Regions from separate parts of the Homo sapiens genome. Here regions 2, 3 and 4 are each linked to region 1. Evidence: fine-mapped expression QTL. A gene starts in region 1. Each other region holds a variant in brackets. All regions are shown on one strand. Distances are between the middles of the regions. Region 1 holds the start of SLC46A2 (solute carrier family 46 member 2). Region 2 overlaps SNX30 (sorting nexin family member 30). Region 3 has its middle 24 kb from the start of SLC46A2. Region 4 overlaps SNX30 (sorting nexin family member 30).

What was found. PIP is the estimated chance that this variant, and not a neighbour inherited with it, causes the effect.
Region 2: its variant is fine-mapped to the expression of SLC46A2 in whole blood (TOPMed, PIP above 0.99).
Region 3: its variant is fine-mapped to the expression of SLC46A2 in tibial artery (GTEx, PIP 0.97).
Region 4: its variant is fine-mapped to the expression of SLC46A2 in whole blood (TOPMed, PIP above 0.99).

The regions. Positions count from the first base shown.
Region 1 is chr9:112,888,261-112,893,412 of GRCh38, forward strand. SLC46A2 (solute carrier family 46 member 2) reads right to left here and starts at 2,616. Exons shown (of 4, transcript NM_033051.4): 1 at 1,293-2,616. The coding sequence starts at 2,421.
Region 2 is chr9:112,824,669-112,829,820 of GRCh38, forward strand. All of the region lies in intron 3 of SNX30 (sorting nexin family member 30), which reads left to right. Among named protein-coding and RNA genes, the nearest start is that of SLC46A2, 64 kb to the right of the region's middle. The variant C/T (reference allele first, on the strand shown) is at 2,303.
Region 3 is chr9:112,912,782-112,917,933 of GRCh38, forward strand. No RefSeq gene overlaps it. Among named protein-coding and RNA genes, the nearest start is that of SLC46A2, 24 kb to the left of the region's middle. The variant C/T (reference allele first, on the strand shown) is at 1,925.
Region 4 is chr9:112,860,797-112,865,948 of GRCh38, forward strand. SNX30 (sorting nexin family member 30) reads left to right here. Exons shown (of 9, transcript NM_001012994.2): 8 at 3,451-3,603. Among named protein-coding and RNA genes, the nearest start is that of SLC46A2, 28 kb to the right of the region's middle. The variant C/T (reference allele first, on the strand shown) is at 2,623.

The DNA of each region.
Region 1 (5,152 bases):
GAGTGAAACTCCATCTCAAAAACAAAACAAAACAAAACAAAACCCAAAGAGAGACACAGAGAGAGGTGGTGGGCAAAAGGGGAAGGGGGTACTCTGTCCTATGCTGTTTAATTGAGAAGTGACCAGAGGTTACCTTGCCATTTTGTTAGGTGTTTCTAAGATGTGTGACCTGCCTGGGCCAAGAGCCAGCCTCAGATAACTGTCTGAAGTTGTTTTTTTGATATGATAGCCACTAGCCCCATATAACTATTTAAATTAAATACAATGACATAAAATTTAAAAATCTGTTCTTTAGTTGCGCTAGCTACATTTCAACGGCTCAATAGCCACATGGAGCCAGTGGCTTCTGTATTGGACAGAATGGATAGCAACTATTTCCATCATTCTAGAAAGTTCTATTGGAGCATTCATCTCGAGCTTTCTGCTTATAGTTGTCTGACTTGTGCCCTCAGATGGAAACTTAATGCTGCTTCCTTGGGGAATTTATTACATTGGTTGTGGAAGGCATTTACCGAGTATTTTAATGCATTTTTAAAAAGCCCTTGCTTGACTCCAAATGATTTTAATTAAGGGATCTTTTCAGTAGAATTACTTGAAATTCCACTCCTCCACGTTTTTTTTTTTTTGTTTGTTTGTTTTTTTTTTTTTGAGACAGAGTCTTGCTCTATCACCCAGGCTAGAGTGCAGTGGCACAATCTCGGCTCACTACAACCGCTGCCTCTTGGGTTCAAGTGATTCTTGTGCCTCAGCTTCCTGAGTAGCTAGGACTACAGGTGTGCACCACCACACCTGGCTAATTTTTATGCTTTTGGTAGAGATGAGGTTTTGCTATATTGGCCAGGCTGGTCTTGAACTCCTGGCCTCAAGTGATCCTCCCACCTCCCGCCCAAAGTGCTGGGATTACAGGCGAGAGCCTCTGCGCTCGGCCTTTGAAATTCCATCCCTTTAAAATGGCAAGGGGGTGTGGGGGAAGAAACCCAATTCCATCTCCTCTGTTGAAGGCCATCCTGAAGCCTCCCCTACTGACTCCAGGTACCACTGACCACACCTCCTTGACTGCCCAGAACCATGAACACCACTCTGGTAACATTTCATTCTCAATATAGATAATTAATTAACAATACATTACAGATAAACTCAGGGGCATATAATCTTGTGTCCCTTGTGCCTCCTAGGTAGCAGGTTCAATCCCTGGTGCTGAGCTAGGACACCCAGACCATGGCATCCCTGGTGTCAGCCCCATGATGCAGAGGGCTAGCAATGTCCTGCCTCCTCAAGAATGACAGACTCACCAATATAGAACATGTATGTCTCTTTCACAAAAGCCAAGAGGAGGGCTCCTGACCCAAAGGAGACCATCCCAATCATGATCATGGTGGTGTCCCGAAAGCAGCGGGAGAAGACCAGGACACCCAGGAAGCTGGTGATGAAGATGGTGTACCCTGCAGCCATACCATAGCCCACCTGCACTTGGTTCCAACCGAGAGGCTCCCTCAGCACAAAAAGAGGGATCACGTCCACTGTGCCCACCACCGCCAGGTCATATATGATAGCACCCACAAAGAGCAAGGCAATGGTGGTTTTATGGGGTTTTGCTTTTCCAGGAGATGGAGGGTGCCCCACTGCATACTGTTGGTCCAACTGATCAGGATCCAGAGTGCGGTATGTGCCAACCGTGCCAGACACGGTATCCACGGCGGGGAGCTCCTGGCTGGGTTTGGCCACCGACTCAGGGACCTTTAGCACCAAAAGGCTGTAGAGCAGGGCAAACGAGGCACAGCTCACGCTGCAGGCCGTCAGTATCAGGCCCTGCCCAGAGTGCCCAGCCATCTGCTTGAAGAGATGCCCGGAAGCCATGCTCCCGCAGAACCCCGCCAAGCCCAGCATCAGGTCAATGAGGATGAGGCGCACAGAGCGGCGGCCCTCGGAGGAGCCCAGCGATCCCAGCGCCATGACCCCGGACCAGAAGGCGGAGAAGCCGCCGAATAGCCCGTTCAGCGCCGCCGCCCCGTACAGCACCTCCACTGGCCAGTCCAGCAGCACCTTGAGCAGCAGCCCGAGGCGGGAGAGCAGGAAGCCCAGCAGCGACATGCAGATGGAGATCTTTCGGTGGTAGCGGTCGCTGAGCCATCCCAGCCCGTAGGCGGACAGCAGGGGGGACAGGCCCACCACAAGGTTGTAGATAATGTAGAAATTGGAGATGGCTCTCTGCTGTTGGTCCTCTAGAGCCCCCCGGGGCGATGGGCTGGCACTGTGGTTGGAGGAGCCTCCGGTTCCGTAGGACGCCTTCACCACGAGGAGTAGCCCCGCATCGTAGAGGGAGGCAGCCACCTGGGACGAGGCCACCACGGGCTCAACCCAGGTCCTCGGGTGGAAGCGAGGCAGGTGGCCCCTCCGCGGGCAGGTGACCTCGGGGCTCATGTGACCTCTCTGATGGGGATCGAAGGGCTTTCTGGCTGCAGTGACAAGGATATGCTCCCAAATTCGGCTGCTACGGCTGCTCAGGTTTCAGTCCCGGAGCGCGAGTGTGCTCCGTGCGCCGGGAGCGCGAGTGTGCTCCGTGCGCCGGGAGCGCGCCGGCCAGTGGCGAGCAGAGCCAGGGCACGCAGCGCCTGTGACAGCAGCCCGCCCAGCAGCCGAGTGACCTCCCGAGTGACTCCTCCTCAGGCCAGAAAAGGCCGCGCTCCACCCTGCCCTCGCCACCTCAGGCAGAGTAGGACTGGCGACAGTCCAGGGAAGCCAGGCGCGGGGGAGCGCACCGCGAGTGCTGGCTCCTGGCGCCAGCACCCCCGGGGCCGACGGGTCACGCTGCTCCTGTGAGCGCGGCCGCCTGACGGGGCCGAATTTCCCCACAGCCAGGCGTGCGTGCCCGGACCTCCCGCGGATCTCTGCGGACCCCCCACCACCGGGGCAGGGGCTGGAAGGAAGCTCCCCAGGACTGGCTCAGGGAGCGTTTCCAAATTCTCCCATCCCAGGAAGGCAGGTTTGCGCGAGGGGTGGGACGCCTAGGATTCTGCCTAGGATAAGTATTGGGGTGTGAAGTTTTATTTATAGATTTAATGCAACAGGGGCCCATGTGCTATAGGCAGCTGGGTAGCACTTTGAGAGAAGTAAAAACTTGGGAGCCGCCAGGTCCAGGCTCTTCTCCAAGCCAAAGGCCTCTTAGAGAAGAGTCCTGTTTGGTACACCTGCATTGGTGGGCCTAGTGCCTGGGCCTTGTCTAGAAGGCTCCTGCCCCAAACCCCAGGGCCAAGGGAGAGACGGCAAGATCCTGCCAGCCCTAGATGTCCCCCTAGATGATAAAACTGGACTCTTGGGCAGGGGCTTGAGCCCACTGGAAGGGGCAGAGTCACCAGGGTCCTCATCTGAATCAAGTGCCCAGGTCCCTTTCTGCTTGTTAGTAGTCACTCTTCTTCTGTCTGTGGGCTCACTCCCCTGGGCTGGGCTGAGACCTCCACTTCCCAGGTGGCCTCGCTTCTTGTTTAGGTACATACTTCTGCAAAGAAAACCAGGGTGATGGATGGTGCAGGGGCCAAAATGTACCACAGAGCATGACCTGTTCCATGGTCAGCCCCAGGGATGGAGACTCAAAGCACACAGCCTTCCTGTCCCTCTACCCACAATCCACTATAGCTCTGGCAGCGTGGATGATCAGGAACCCAAAGACATGAAAGGGAGACGCAGGTATGCAGGGAGAGCTTAAAATGCCACATGGATAATATACTCATGTAGGGAGTAGGGACTGGATTCCAAATGATTTAGTGTATCTATGTGCTCTTTTGGTAGTGTTTAGGTGGGCTATAATCTCCTCCCCTGCCACCCTCAACCTCCAGCATGGCCCAGCCTCCTCGTGTCTAGGCCCAGACGACTCTGCCTTCTGCAAAGAGAAAGACACACCTAGTCTTGCCCTTCAAGATGTGCCCCATGGATCTGGCCCAGCAGCCCATTTCCTTCTTCCTCCCCCTCACCTAGGGTCACCTTGGGAGATACATGTTTCACCCAACCCAAGCCTGGCTCTCCCACTCCATTCTTAATTTTTCCAGAGGCTACAGCAAACAGTCCAAACACCTTGATCCTATGAGGGGTGGAGACTCCAGTGAATGAGTAGGTTATGGGGCCAGGTGGTATTCCACAATCAAATATGGCCATGAGAACAACCTGACCCAGATGGACCACTCTGGCCACTTGATCAAGGAGTCTGTGCATTCTAGGGCTCTAGACTGTAGGGGGCAGCCCTTGTCATCTCTGGGAGGGTCTGTGGTATTTCAGTTCTTCCCATTGTCTTGGGAAACCAGGGACATTTGAAGGGTCTCTGAGAGAGTCACATCAGATCTAGAACAGATCTAGTAGGAGCTGGGTTATTAGGATGCTAGTCAGCCCTAGGAACCCCCAGGCTTCTGAGTTCTCTGGCCTGGAAATGAACAAGACTCAGGGTAGTCAGTGTCTCTCCCAGTTTAGGCTACTGTGGGTTGGATTATATTCTCATCATGTCCCCACTTCTTGCTCCATCTCTGAATGCAGGCCCCAGGTGAGCTAGCACCTGGTCATCCTCTGCAGCCCAGGCTACCAGCAAGTAGAGCCCTGACCTTGCCACTTCAAGATAGAATCTAGTCTCCAGTGCAAGGTTGGCTTCATTAAAGTGCAAGTACTAAATCTCTGATGTTTAGATTGATAAAATCACACTATTCCAGAAGAAAGGAACTAAGAAAAAAAACAGTAGCAACTAATATTTTTTGAGCCCTTATTATGTACTAAGCATTTTACGTGAATGAATTTAATCCTCCCGAGAAGTCTGTGAGCTGATCTATCACCCCATTTTTACAGACTGAGATACTGAAACCAGAGAGGTTAGGAAATTTGCACAAGATCACAAGGCCAGTAAATCAGGAAACTAGTATTTGGCATCAGACAGTCTTTGCAAGCCTACAGCTATGGGGAAAATACAGTTGCCAGAAATTTTTATTTGAGGATGTCCTCTTAACCCACATTGGAATGTGGAGAGGAGTAGAAACAACACAATCATGTTGTGATTATTGTTGATCAACAATGTATTGCATAAATAGGAACAAGAGAGTGGATAGATTATCTGTTGAACCTATATCCCAGGCACTTTACACTCAGGCAAGGAATACTTTTGTTTTCTTAACAAAAT
Region 2 (5,152 bases), 64 kb before region 1:
GAATTTGTTTGCCTACCTTTTCTAGCTCTTGGGGCTGTCTGCATTCCTTGGCTCATGGCCTCTTTATTTTCAAAGCCAGCAGCATATCTGTCATCATCTCTGCTTCCACCATCACATCTCCTTTTCTTAAAAAAGGAAGTAAAATCCATATTACACATCACCATTTTAACCATTCTGAAGTGTCCAATTCAGTGACTTTTAGTACATTCACGGTGTTGTACGACCATCACCACCATTGAGTGTTGTACGACCATCACCACTATTTAATCCAGAACATTTTCATTACCCCCAAAAGAAACTTTGTACCCATTAAGGAACCACTCTCAATTCCCTCCTTTTCCCAGCCCGGCTATAATGAAGAATGCTGCTATCAACACTGGTGGTTGTCTAAGATTTTGTTTGAGCACTTATTTTCAGTTACCTTGGCTATACAACAAGAAGTGGAATTGCTGGAGCATATAGTAATTCTGTGTTTAATTTTTTGAGGAATTGTTCAAACGGTTTTCCACAGTGGCTTATAATTTTATATCTGCACTAGAAATGTATGAGGGCCCAATTTCTCCACGTATTTGCCAACATTTGCTATTTTACTTTAAAAATTCTAGTGGGTGTGAAGAAGTAGATCCCAAATGACTTGTTTTTTTGAGACAGGATCTCACTCTGTCACCCAGGCTGGAGTGCATTGGCATGACCATAGCTTACTGCAGCCTCCAACTCCTGGGTTCAAGCAATCCTCCCACCTCAGCCTCCACAGTAGCTGGGACTTCAGGCGTGCACCACCATGGCCAGCTAATTTTTTATTTTTTGTAGAGATGGGGTCTTGCTATGTTGCCCAAGCTGGTCTGGAGCTCCTAGCCTCAAGCAATCCTCCCAGCTTGACCTCCCAAAATGCTAGGATTATAGACATGAGCCACTGTGTCTGCTTCCCCCAATCGATTTTTTAAGACATTTTGGCCTAAACGTTATATAGACATTCTACCTGTAAGTCCACTCCCCTTTTTGCTTTTTGTTCTCGGTGCTTACAAATTAATAAAAATACTTGGCATTTGTTAGACATCTGCTGTGTGCCTGGAACTGTGTTGAGCTCTTTTCATTTACATGATGTGGTTTACAGACTATAGATGGACTTGATTTCACCTGCAACCCAGATTCCTATGTGTAAACAACCCAGACAGTAATAGAGGTGAGGCTGAGAGTAGGTGTGTCCCGTAAGGAATCTTGAAATAGCAAGAAATTTCTGAAGCTACATACATTTGGAAATGATAACGCTTATGACAGGAGGAAATTCTGCTTGCAGAAGGATTCTCTCTAGGGTTCCTTTAAATATCAAGTTTCCCCGATTGATGAAACATAAGTTCAATTTGCTAAATCTGAAGAATGGACCCCTATTGTAGAATGTCATCTTTATGTTAAATGAGGCACTCCTAACCACTTACTTGCGCCTCAGGCCATCCTCTCAAGTCTTATTCAGCAGAAGCAAATGAGAGTATCGTAACAGGACTCATGAAGTAAGAACAGGAAAATATCCACTGGATTTGGTAATTAGAAAGTCATTGGCACTCAATTTTAAAAGGGCCGTTTCTGCACTGGGTGGGGATAGGGCAGAGAAACCCAGCACTGAAGGCAGTATCACAGCTGGTTTTGCTTTGAGGGTTGGCAGAAGGCTGGGGGTTGAGAAATCAATGGGATACAGTGAAGTCGAGATAAGTGACTCCTTTCAAAAAGATTGAATGAGCCAGGAAGGACAAGGGAGAAGATATAAGGTCAAGGGGTGGTTGGATTCGTATTTTTTAGGAAGAAAAACCAACCATATTTTTATAGATTCTGGGAATAGAGCTGGATGAACAGGAGATGTTGAAGATACAGGGAAGAGATTAATGACAGGTGCACCCCAATGAACAAATGGGTCAAGGACACAGATGGAATGCTTAGCTTTAGGGGAGGAGGGGTTGTTTTCCACAGGGGCTAAGGAATGGAGGTGAGGGTGATGCCCAGTCAATGGGCTTCTGTGGAGGAAGCAAAATAGGAAATTTCCATCTGATGCTCTTACACCTGGTTCTCACTTCAGAAAGATAGTAATCTGCTTAGCACGAAAAGCTGGGGTATGAGAATGGCTGCCTAAAGGAACGGGGGAGAGAAGAACTGACCAGAATAAAGGAATTATCCTAAAGGACAGCCATATCCCATTAAGATAACTTCTCAGTGCTTTGGACTGGGCCAGCATCGGGCTGAGTGGCCCGTCTGTCTGATCCAGCACTGCATTTCGAATATTCTACTCAAGTGTAAGCTCTGCTGGGTGTCA[C/T]ACGTGGACATGTTATCCTTGTGTGGGTCTGTAATTTTATTCCTGACTCTATTCCCCTCTCTTCTTTCATTTACAAACCTTTCCACTGTGCCCTTTTTGGAACTCCTGCTCTGTCATAAAGAATCCCCCAGTATTCTTAACATCTTCTCTGAATATTCCCACCATGTCAAGGTTTAAATGAACACTGGATGTCCCTGAAGATTAGTAGTCCCCTGAAGCTGCTGCCAGTCTTACAACAAAGACACCCAAACTTGTGTGTGTTTACCCTGTGGTAGGAATCATTCAAAGCACTTTCAGCATATTAGCTAATTTAATCCTCATGACAACCCTGTGAAGTTGATGCTATTAGTTTTTACCTAGCACCAACTTCTTGAGGTACCAAGAAATGTATAGAACTTGACGGTAGGCAAACAGCTAGTAGGTGGCAAAGTCAAAAGATAAACCCAGGAAGCATGGCATCAGAATCTTTACTCTTGATAACTAAAACATACTTTCTGAAGCTCTTTCAAGTTGAGGGCACTGAATTCCCTCATACTCCAAATACTTCTTTTCCAGGGGGTGGGGTGTTGGTGTTACCAATTCCTAAATCTTTTCAAGGTTTTGTGTTCTAAATCTAGGTTTACTAGGCCTACTCCAAGTGGCCTAGTATTCCACTTTTTTGGGTTGGCTAAGTCCACTAATCCTTGTTGCTATGTCTTATTTCTGGTTTGTTTTTGTCCTTCAGGGTTTATAATTTTAAAAAATCCTCTTTATTGCCATATTATGGGGGTTTGAGGAGGTTGTGGAGTTAAATGCTTGTGTTTAATGTCTTACTTTGAACTTGAACTGCTAGGTTGGTTTAACATTAGAAAATATATTAATTTACCACTTACCGTATTAAAGGAAAAAGCATGTGATTGTCCTGATAGACCTGCTTGGCCAACGTTGTCTTGGTTTATTCCCTAAAGAGGCTTGCATTTTCTAAAGAGGCTGCATCTGCACGAGTGTTCACAGCAGCATTGTTAGTAGGGCTATAAAGCTGAAAACCATTCACATGATCATGCACACGTTCACAGGCAGGAGAGTAGGTGGACAATTTGTCACACAGTCAGTTATATAGTGCGTGACTATGGAACAGTAAAATTATTTTCCTGTAGCTAAACATACATCAATATGGATAAGTCGCAGAAAGACAATGTTGAATGACAAAAGCGAACTATACAGGTGTGTACTGCATAGTGACATTTCTGTCAATGGTGGATGGCATATAGATGGTGGTCCCATAAGATTATAATACTGTATTTTTACTGTACCTTTTCTACATTTAAATATGTTTAGGTACCCAAGTACTTGCCATTGTGTTACAATTGTCTACAGTAGTCAGCACAGTAACATGCTAGGAGCAATAGCCTATACCGTATCGCCTCGGTGTGTAGTAGCCGCACCATCTAGGTTTGTGTAGGTGCACTCTGTGATGTTCACACAATGATGAAATTGCCTGACAATGCATTTCTCAGAGTGTATCTCTGTCATTAAGTGACACATTAACTGTAATTTTATTTTTTATAAAGTTAAACAAGCTCAACGAACAGTACATGGTTTTAAAACTGAAACTTAGAGGGGAGCAATGACCAAAAAGTTGAGGATTGTTAATTCCTTCATGGGGGCAGGAATAAGCGGAGATCTGATCAGGGATCCGTTGACAGGGAACTTTGTCAATGGCAGTGTTCTCTCTGTCAAGTTGAGTGGTAGATTAATAAGTGCTGGTACTATTATTATGCTTTATGACTTTGAGGTATGTAATACGCTCTTTTATTGTGCTAAAAAACATAGCACCATTTTATAATCTACAATTCAGTGGCATCAAATACATTCACAATGTTGTGCATCTGTCACCACCTTCTGAAAAGTTTCAGAATCACCCTGGAAGGAAACCCTGTACCCATGAAGCAGTCACATCTCATTTCCCCCGATCTCTCCAGCCCCTGGCAACCACCATCTACTGTCTGTCTCTGTGGGTTTGCCTATTCTGGACATTTCACATGAATGGAATCATATATATGGACTTTTGTATCTGGCTGTTTTCATTTACCATAATGTTTCCAGGGTTTTTCCATGATGTAGCATGTTTTAGTACTTAGTTTTTATGACAAACTATTAGTCCATTGCATGGATATGCCGCATTTTGTTTGCCCATTCACATGTTGATGGACATTTGGATTGCTTCTGCCTTTTGGTCATTGTAAACAAGGCTGTTATGACTATTTGTGTACAAAATTTTGTTTGGGCACCTGCTTTCAATTTTTTTTTTAAAGTTTTAAAAAATGTTTGTTTGTTTGAGATGAAGTCTCACTCTGTAACCCAGGCTGGAGTGCAGTGGTGCAATCTCCACTCACTGCAACCTCCCCATCTTGCCAGCCTAAGCTATCCTCCCACCTCAGCCTCCTGAATAGTTGGGACTATAGGTGCAAGCCACCATGCCCAGCTAATTGTTTTTATATTTAATATTTTTGGTAGAGACGTGGTTTCACCATGTTGCCCAGGCTGGTCTCGAACTCCTGAGTTGAGGCAATCCACCTGCCTTGGCCTCCCAAAGTGCTGGGATTACAGGCATGAGCCACCACGCCCAGCCTTGCTTTCAGTTCTTTTGGGCATAAATCTGTGAGTGGAATTGGTGAGTTTTATGGTAATTCTAAATTTAACTTATTGAGGAACCACCAAACTGTTTTCCACAGTGGCTGCACATTTTACATTCCCACCAGCAATGTATAAATGTTCTGATTTCTCCACATCCTCACCAACACTTGTTTTTTTTTGTTTGTTTTGTTTTTGTTTTTTTTTAAGATTATGGCCATCTTAGCAGGTATGAAA
Region 3 (5,152 bases), 25 kb after region 1:
ATGGATGTTAAGCTGATACTGTGCGGCCCAAAATGCTTGTTATAAATCACATGGTTAGACAGTCTAGTGTCTCTCAAGGAGCCTAGGTAAACAAAGACACTCTTATCAGGCAGGACATTCTTTGGGCCTAGAGATCACCTCCCAGTAACTGAGGCAAAGGCCAGACTTCCCTTTGGGTAAGGCTAATTCTTTAATACACAGAAAAATTCCAGGCTCTGGGGATATAGCAGCAAGCAAAACAGATACAAATTCCCACTCTCTTGAAGTCCACTATCATATTCAGAAAGTACCCTTAAGCTGCCCATTCCAAGCCCCCACTGGCTTACTAGCCTGAAGTGTATTATTTTCCCAGGAACAGCTCCTTAAATAGACCTAGACATTTCCAGGGACCTTGCAAATATAATCCAAATGTTACTCCTATTGGGATCACTTATTCTCTTGGATCCTGGGATAAAACAATAGAAGAGAGATGTTTTGCTTTTAAAAGGATCCTTCAGATTGGGTTCCTGCAGCTGAGCTTTTGGGCCCCTAGAAACGGAATTCCTTCTTTTGCACTTTAGTTCTCTTCTTTTCATAGCGATCAAGCCCTGGCCATCATACCCTGTGCTTGGGATGGCTGCTCGTTGCGTACTGTAGGCTGTGTGCTTCCAACTGGCCTGGACTGGCAGTCTTCTTTATCTGTGGTTGCTCTATCATTCCAGTTTAGAATCTATCATTCCACATTCCTCAGGGATCCAGTCAACCTGGCAGATCTGAACATATGTTCTTGGCTATCGGAGACCCAGGGAACTGGCATCTGATTTGTAGCTGAGAAAGCCAAAGTGGCCATGAAACACAGGAGAGTCTGCAATTGGAAAATAAGCACACTCTCCCACAAAGGCAGAGCAAGGCCCATGAATTCTCAGAAATGATAGCAGGAATGTTGGTCTGGATTAACAAGAATTCTGCCTAGGAAGATGGCCTGCCAGGGGAGATTCTGGGATGTCCTATAGGAAGATGCTGGGTGGGGTGAATGGTATGGGTAGAAAGAAGGCAGTCAAGGAGCGGAGCTCTGCCTACAGCGTGGGAGTGGTCGTCAGAGGAACTTTTCAGGGGGACCTACTTGAGAAAGGGTCAGCTTTAGATACCTGCCAAGTCCAGAGAGCACAAAGCGGTTTTATGATAGCATCAGGCAAGAGTGAACTTTTTTCCTCCTCCCTTTTCCTTCTCCCTCCTTGGGCTCCAATCCCAGGGAGGCCACAAGCAGCTGTTAGGCATCTGAGAGAGGAGCAATGGGAAAAAGAGAAAAAGACAGTTCCCAGAAGCCTGCAGTTTCCCTGCAGTGACTTTACCTGAGAAGAAAGGGCTGGTAAAGGTGGCTCATGCCTATAATCCCAGCACTTTGGGAGGCTGAGGCAGGCGGATCACAAGATCAGGAGTTTGAGACCAGCCTGGCCAACATAGTGAAACCCGGTCTCTACTAAAAATATAAAAATTAGCCAGGCGTGGTGGCCTGCGCCTGTAGTCCCAGATACTCAGGAGGCTGAGGCAAGAGAATTGCTTGAACCCAGGAGGCGGAGGTTGCAGCAGTGAGCTGAGACTGTGGCACTGCACTCCAGCCTGGGTGACAGAGTAAGACTCTGTCAAACAAACAAAACAAAACAAAACAAAAAAGAAGAAGAAGAAGAAAGGAGAAAATTTATCTTTACAATGAACATCCAAATGTTGATTAAATATATCATAGTGGACAGCATCATTTCAGAATCAAGACTATGTTTGTGACTTAAAGTAAGCCCTGGCATATAAATGTGTGTTTTACTAAATAATCCACTATTGATGTGGACTCTATGTACAGACAAAAAAGAGGGGGAGAGACTCATTTCTCCTTCTCTTCCTCCTTGAATAGTGTTTTGATCTTATCTTCCTTGGCCTGAAGCCAGCTCTG[C/T]CACTTGGACCAGCAGGCTCAGCATGACCAGCCAGGAGCAACCCACAAGCATTGTCTATTTCCAGCTTGGATAATGTCCCATAAGAATCCACTTTATTTTGGGAGAGTATGTGCTTAAAGTGGAAAGTACGTGTTTATTATCATTTGCACTCTCCTCATGCAAGGCCGTATCAAAATCTCTCAGTGTTTTGACTGGTCTACATGTTGTCTACACAGTTAAAATGGTATATAATTTAGCTTTTCACAATCTATTATTATACATCATGAATTCTGTTAAATATAAGGCCTCATTTCCCAGTGAAAAATTTGGAAATAATAATTTCTCCATTCACACTTAAACAGACTAATTAGTATAAAAGTCTTTTAGATTAAAAACTAATGATCTGAGAATCAACGGAATCATTGCTCGAGTTCAGCATTTCTATGCAAGAGTTCCTTATCTTTCTCATTTGCTCAGGCCTAATCCAAACCTTTAAGGATCTCTGGCATTTGTTAAGTAAAGGCCAGCTGTTGAATCGAATTAATGCATAACACTATGATATAATAAAGCATCTTCTTAGAGCAACTATTATATACCCGGCACTACCCTGAACTGTTTCTGCCAGTTCAAGTCCATTTGATACACAGTGGGAAAAGATGGCTATTGAAGTTATCCTTTCCCCTTTGATATAATCACTAAATGATTGATCTTTTTCTCACAAATAGTGGCAATTTGGGGAAATCTCAGAACAGGCAGGCCTTCCAAATCAACGATGCTAGATAACGTTTTGCTTTATAAATACGAAGTTGTCCCAGGTTGACTGTGGGAAGAGCAACACTGGTTCATTGCATAAAACATTACACAATGTTTGTTGATCTAACTTGACTTGCAAGCTATCCTGTGAGTTTTATGATAATTTATGCCAATTGGTGGTATGATGCTTGAGTTATGGTACCTTATGATGTTGCTTATAAGTGAAATGAAGTATACTCCAATGTAGAAACACCTACAATCTGATTAAATTGTAGGGTGCATCTAATAAATGGTTTCTACAGACATACTTAAAGTGGACAGAAAAGCAAAATATGTGTCTAAACAGAAATGTTAAAGGGGAATATTCTGATTACTGAGTTTTCAGCAACCCTTCTGCCCACAATCTTTCCTGAAGTTTGGGTAAATTCATGGCTGGGTCTTCAGCCATAGAAAGTCTGTCCTCATCCTTTCTTTTTTCTTTCTTGAATTTCATTTCATTGTGGTAAGAGGACTTGGTAAGAGATCTACCCTCTTAAAATTTTAAATGTATAATACCTTCTTATTGACTAAAGCTGCCATGACTGTAGATATGGCAGAGGACCGACAAGCTATAGAGATCTGCCCTCATCCATTCTCTCTGGACTCTTGTGTCAGGTTGCAGTAGGTCCCCCACATTAAAATTTCCCACTAAACCCAAATGTAATGCATCTAACTAGTTTCCCCCAAGCCAGATGGCAAAAAACCCTTCTAGCCTTGTCTTAAAATCCTTAGCATTATATAAGTTCTAATTCTGTGACTTTAACAGCTTCTTGGAATCAGTCATGTACACATAGCTCTGGTTCCTGGCTGGGGTATTCACTACCTTAAACTTTCTTAAAAAAAAACACCCGATGACCTTCTAGTGTTGTTTTGGGGATTAGTGGGCAGATGTAGAGGACAGTGATGTCTACACTTGCTACATTCTACCTCTTGGCTGTCTACTATATCCACAGTCACTTCTTTCCATATAATTTTTAAAATATCCCTGCCTGATAATATAACCAGTATAAAAGTGAAAATATGCTCATTCTCCTTCCAAGAGAGGGAAAACATGAAACTATATTAATTCATTGTATCGAGATTCTTGTTTAGGCTCTCTATCTAATATCTGTTTCGTTCTAATTCTAGAGATGATCCTCTATTATTTAAAAAAACCCATGGCTGATTGATAAGCCTGGCCAATAATACCCTGCATTCAATGGTCAAGAAAGGAAGAAAAAAGAAGACAAATTAAGTATATGATACATAATAAGAAAGGTAGCAGCTGTAATCCTCACTTAAGTATAAGATCCTGAGGTACTACTGATATTTGAGGGGTTTCTTTGCCATGAATTTTATGTTCCTCTTTCCTTTGGCAAACATTTCAGCTAGTCAGGATTCTTTGCTAGATGTTGTATCAGTCAGCTGTTGCCAGAGAAATACTATATATAAAACAATTTCAAGATTTAGGTGACTTACAGTAACAAGTATTTTTTTCTCACTCACAGGTCTGTGGGTTAGCTGTGGGTCAACTGATCTACCCTGGGCTTAGCTGGGCTTGACCTTAAACTGTGGGTTAGATCAAAATCCACTCCCCATATATCTCATCCTCTTTCAACAAGTGACTACCCAAGGCATATTCTTATTAATTCAAAATGCAGGGATACAAGAGGACAAATTCAACTACACAAGTGTATTTCAAACCTTTGCTCACATCATGTTTGATAACATCCATTAGGAAGTCACGTGGTCAAGTCCAAAGTCAAGAGATTGAAAAGTATCCTTCACACATCATGAGTAGATACAGAAAATTCTACTTCAGGAGAGTGAAGAATTGAGACCAATAATTTAGTTTATCATAGGAGTGATTGAATACTTATTTCTGAGGACTTTGACCCCTTGCTGGTCTTGTTTGTAGAAGATTGCATGCTCTTCCATTAACTTTACCACTGGGAGTCTCCTGAACTCTACACATAGGCCCTCTGGCCCCTATCATGTGGCAGAGACTCTTTTTATGCATGATAATAAGGATAAGTCACCCAGCTAACCATATGACCCTCTTAAATTGCCTGTCCACCTAATGGTATGAGATTTCTCAAATGGCCAGATGACAATCTCCACTTCAGTAGAATTGATAGAGGCATTCTAACCTTGAATACTAACACCATTAAGCAACCAGATCCCCAAATCCAGATATAAGAGGTAAGCAATTTATGAGTGAGTTATTTAGATATGATCACAAGAGATGTTACTCCTACCTCTACCCCTTGATTTCTAGACTTATAAATCCTGCATACAGGAGAAACTACATATACTGTATCTTGGAAAACCTTATCCTTGCAGGGTTTTATGTCCAAGGAGGAGTCATAGGTGAGTCCACAATGAGTCATTCTACCTTTAGATAAGGCCAGCTGATTCTGAATAAGGAGACTTGTAAAACCAGTTGGTTTATGGAATATCAGCTCATTTCTTCACTA
Region 4 (5,152 bases), 27 kb before region 1:
GAATAAAGCTTGAGGAGCTGTGCAAGGGATAGATTATCTTTTGTGAACAGCAAATTATAATATTGATACTGATATGAGCTAACAAATGTTTATTGAGCACTTACTATATGCCAGGCACAAGTGTGTCACAGGTGTGCAATGACTCTCTGGAACCAGTGTTGCAGGGGTAAGAAGAATTTACCAAGACAATTATAGGTAAAGAAAAACAGATTTATTAGAAAAAGTAGGAAAATACATTGCAAGAGTGCAACAGGCAGATCAGCAGGAAGGGAGCTGACTGCCCAGAAACAAAGGCTTGCTGGGGATTTCATAGAATGGTGCTCGTGCTGTGTACTGAAGAGGGCTTCATGCAGTGCTGATAACTCCAAGGTCGCAGTGAGCAAACTTGCATTTTTCTATTAACTGAGGGTCTGGTGATAGCTGGGTGCAGGAAGATTGTGTTATTAATATTTGTGCAGGAAGGCTATGTGTCCTGGACCATGAAGAAAAGCAGAAGTATAGCTTAATCTGCCTTCTCTTTTTGCTTTCCCTTGGTCCTGTCAGCCCAACTCCCCCTTCCTAATTAGGACGCTGTAAAGCACTTAACACATATTAGCCTGTCTGGCCTCATGACAGCCTAGTGAGGCGGAGGATATTATTAGCCAGACAGAGAAGCTGAGGCCAGGTCCCAGGCCACACACCTGGTAAGTGGCAGGTGGGGTGTGCAAGCTAAGCTCTGGAAGTTTGGTTCTAGAGCTGTCCACTGCAGCTGGAGGAAGTGTGGGGCTTTTTCTATTCTCCAAGAGTGGGCATGAGTTAACTGGGCCTCAGGAAAGCAGGACTTTGGGACGAGCCTCAGGTTCCTCATCCCCTGCCACCCTCTGCCAGTCTTGCGAGCTGCAGTTCCCTCTCCGTGCCGCTGTGGGCCCTGTGGCCTGTGCACAATTCCTGCGGTGGGTCCTGGTGTCTTCTCTCCTCTGTCCCTTGTGTGTACCGCCACTCTGGAGTGCCTTCCAAGTGGTCAAACATCTCACATCTGTCATCTTTAAAGAGCCGCCTCAGTGCTGTTTCCTCCATGAGGCCCGATCTTCCCAGGTTGGCCGCCCCCTCCATCCTCCTCAGCGTGCTTATCACGGGGGCTGCAGGGGAAGCGACAACACTTACGATATCTTGCCTCAGTGTCTAGGCATGTTCCTGTTTCTTCCCAACTAGACTGTAGGTTACGGGAGACAAGATTTGTCTGTTGAGACCCAAGCACTTTTGTATTCCTCAGTGCCAAGCACAGAATGTGTTGTGAAACTGAGAAGCCAAATATTTCCCAGACCGAGGCTCAGGCAGTCCTAAAACCCACAGCCGTGGTTTAGACCCTGATTTTTCTGGGTCAGTCAGAGTTCCCATCTCCAGAACACACCTGGGAATCTTTAAACCTGGGAATCTTTCCTCTGTGAACAGTCCTGATTCAGAGACCCTGGCTGCCCTCCTCTCCACGTGTCCTGGTGAGGTTCTCTTTCCAGGGCTTTCCATTTTCTCCTCACAGCAGAAGTTTCGTTAAGCAAACAGGAAGTTGCTCATAGGCACCCTCACCCCAATGCAAGTGTGAGCAGTGGCCAGGAGACGGGTAAGGGAACTGGCCTGTGCCTGTGGGGAGGTGAGGCCAGCCAGAGACACTGGCTCGCTGGGCATCTTTCCATTGAGGCTGATTCCTGGAGTGACTCTGGAGAGGCAAGACTGGGATACTCTGGTTTTTATTTCAGTTTTTCCTGAGGTAACCAATAGTAATGGGTGGTCTTGGGAGGAGGCAAAAGAGACTTAAATCATGGCATCAGAAGAAAAAGTCAGTCTCTGACCTGGTATGGTGGCTCAAACCTGTAATTCCAGTGCTTTGGGGGACCGAGGTGGGAGGATCACTGGAGGCCAGGAGTTCGAGACCAGCCTGGACAACATAGCGCCACCACATCCTACTTATTGTAGAGATGGGGGTCTTACTATGTTGCCCAGGCTGGTCTCAAATTCCTGACCTCCAGTGATCTTCTGCCTTGGCCTCCCAAAGTGCTGGGAGGCATGAACCACTGCACTCAGCCCAGTATTTTTTTTTTCCCTCTTCCAGAAGCTTATGTGCTTTGAAGAAGGCCTCTTTCCCCATCTTAACAGAAAAATTCCTTGCTTTTAAATTTCCAGAGTGTCTAGTTATCTCTCTCTCCAGCTCATCCTGGTTTCACCCATGTCTAGTTCCCGTGTCAGGCACATTCAAATTCACTTGCCTTGGCCATGTCTCTTCCCTGACTCCTGTGTTCTACAACCATCTCCACGTGGTCTGTGGAGAAGATGGCTGAGTACCCTGAAGGTGTCCAGCTCCCTCAGGCCTGTCTTTCTCATTGGCATCATTCTGGGTCAGCTCCTTGTCCACGAGGCTTGGGTATAAACCTCCTCGATTGGTGGAAGTGGACTCCCAGGGGTGAGCCATGGCTTGGAGACAGTTTGGTTCATGGGCCCCAGCACACCAAACATAAAAGGCCTCACTTGTGGTTGGGATACATTTGGCAGGTCGGGGGTTTGACCTGGCTTTGGGCCTGTCGGCTCCCTGGCCGCCATCAGGGCTCAGTGAAGTGCTTGAGTTAGGAGAGAGAAGCCAGCTTTGGGAAG[C/T]GCTGCAGCCACAAAGCCCAAACTCCAGCTGCACAGGATGGTGAAATTCACCAAAGCAAAGTGAAAGTTGTGAAACTTCAAGTGACATAGTTCCCTTTTGAGAAAGTCTTCTAAACCTCTTTAAGAAAAACTTGAAATAGCCTGCTGTATATTTCTTCTTTGAATTTCAAATTTTTTTGACATGCATAAGTAACTTTCCTCCTGTTTTCTCAGACTTCTCTAACTCTCCATTTAAAAGTATCTGCTATTGGGAAAAGCATAAACAAGCCTCCAGTTTATTTATGATGTGGGGTTCAGAGGAGGCAGCTGGCCAGTAGTTGTCTTATTGCAATTCTCTGATTAATGAGGAAAGGCATCATCAAATGTCACAGCAATGGAATAGTTCATGTGATCTGGGAGAACCTACCTCTTCTCTAGTTCCAATATGGGACACAGGAGAATAGCAGGGCAATACAAATGCTGTATATTTGCAAAGTCTGCACACACTTTCAAGTGTGGATGAGTAAATCCTAAAAGGAACCAAAGACATATGAGTCTGAATTGCAATGTTTCTTCTTCCTGTGTGTAAATGGGGGTGTTTCCCCCACGAGTCTCTGTTGTGTTTGGATGGGTTTGAAGATCTGGGTTAGGAGAGCCCCTTTTCAGAGCTCCTCCTTAGACCTGAAAACCCAAGGTTTTGCTTTCAAATAAATGCCTCCAGAGGAGGGAGCGTGTTGATAGCATTTTAATGTAGGGCTTTGGCCTTTGACAAATGTGTGCTCAGAGGAGCTCAAGGCAAGAGATGCCAGTTTTGTGTGCAGGGCACCCATGTGTGCCTCCCTTTTCCAGGTACCGGCGGACGTCGAGAAATGTCAGGATCGGATGGAGTGTTTCAATGCTGACCTGAAAGCTGACATGGAGAGGTGGCAGAACAACAAGAGGCAGGACTTCCGGCAGCTACTCATGGGGATGGCTGACAAGAACATCCAGTATTATGAGAAGGTAATGAGTGTGCCCAACAAGACTGGTTTCTAATGGCCAGAGCCTTTCACATGGGCCTACCAGAAATCCACAAGCTGGGAATCCTGCTAGTCTCATCTCCTTCCCTTATTTTAGCTGCTTAGTCTTGGCTCCCGCTTCATGCCCTTGCCCAACCATGTGGCTGCAGTGCTGGGTTTGGCAGCAGAGGGGGTGCTCACAGGGGTTTCCCTTGCACATGCTGCTGGGGAAGCAGCCCATTCGTCTTCCATGCTTTCTGGGCCTGGCACTGGTTGCTTCCCAGAGCCAGTCAGACCTTCAGCACAGTGATGCTGCCACCGAATGGAGGCTTTGGGGTTACTTTACTCTGTGTTGGGGTTCTGTACACAGGGTCCCTTCAGTTTGGTTGTGCAGTGAACCCCTTTGGTCATCTGGTGAAGCCTATAGACCCCTCACCAAAATACTGTGCATTTGTTTTTTAAATAGACTTCAAAATATTGATTTTAAATACGTAAAATAAAGGGATGTAGGATTACAAAGGAAAGCAATTCTATTAAAAACTTTTACTCATGGATCCCCTTGACCAGGTTAAGCAGCGCACGCACATGCGCGTGCACACACACACACACCCACACACCCCACTACCACCACCACACCCCACACACACACTACACACACACCACACCCCCCCACACTACACACACACCACACATACACCACACACCCCCCATACTACATGCACACCACACACCCCCTACACATACACCCCACATACACACCCCACACACAACCCCCCCACACACGACACCCACACACCACACCCACATACCTCACACAACCCTCACACACAACCCCCACACACACCATACACACACCACACACACATAGAGATGACTCTTATCAGGCTACAGCCCAGTCCCCTCAATCAAGGTTTGCTTGATTCGTATGTCCAGCAAACCAGTGCGAGGCCAGGTGCAGTGGCTCACGCCCGTAATCCCAGCACTTGAAGAGTCCGAGGTGGGAGGATCACTTGAGCCCAGCTCAAGACCAGCCTAGGCAATGTAGTGGGACTGTCGTTACAAAAGATACAAAATGAGCCAGGTGTGGTGGCGTGTGCCTATAGTTCCAGCTACTCGGGAGGCTGTGGCAGGAGGATGGCTTGAGCCAGGAGTTCAAGGCTACAGTGAGTCATGATTGTGCACTACTGTACTCCAACCTGGGTAACAGAGTTTTTTGATCCTGTCACGCCATATATATATATATATATATATATATATATATATATATGTATGTATGTATGCACACACACACACACGTATACACACATATATATACACACATATACATACATACATACACACATGAGTGAGTGTGTGTGTGTGTGTATGTATGTATGTATGTATATATATATATATATTGCGATAGGGTCAAAAACTCTGTTACCCAGGTTGGAGTGCAGTAGTGCAGTCTGTTACCCAGAGTTCCTTTCTTCTGTAACTCCCACACCTTCCCTCTGCTGTTCAGCGGCCTTCCTACTACTACAAAACCAACTATGTCAAATGTCTCTGTTGCT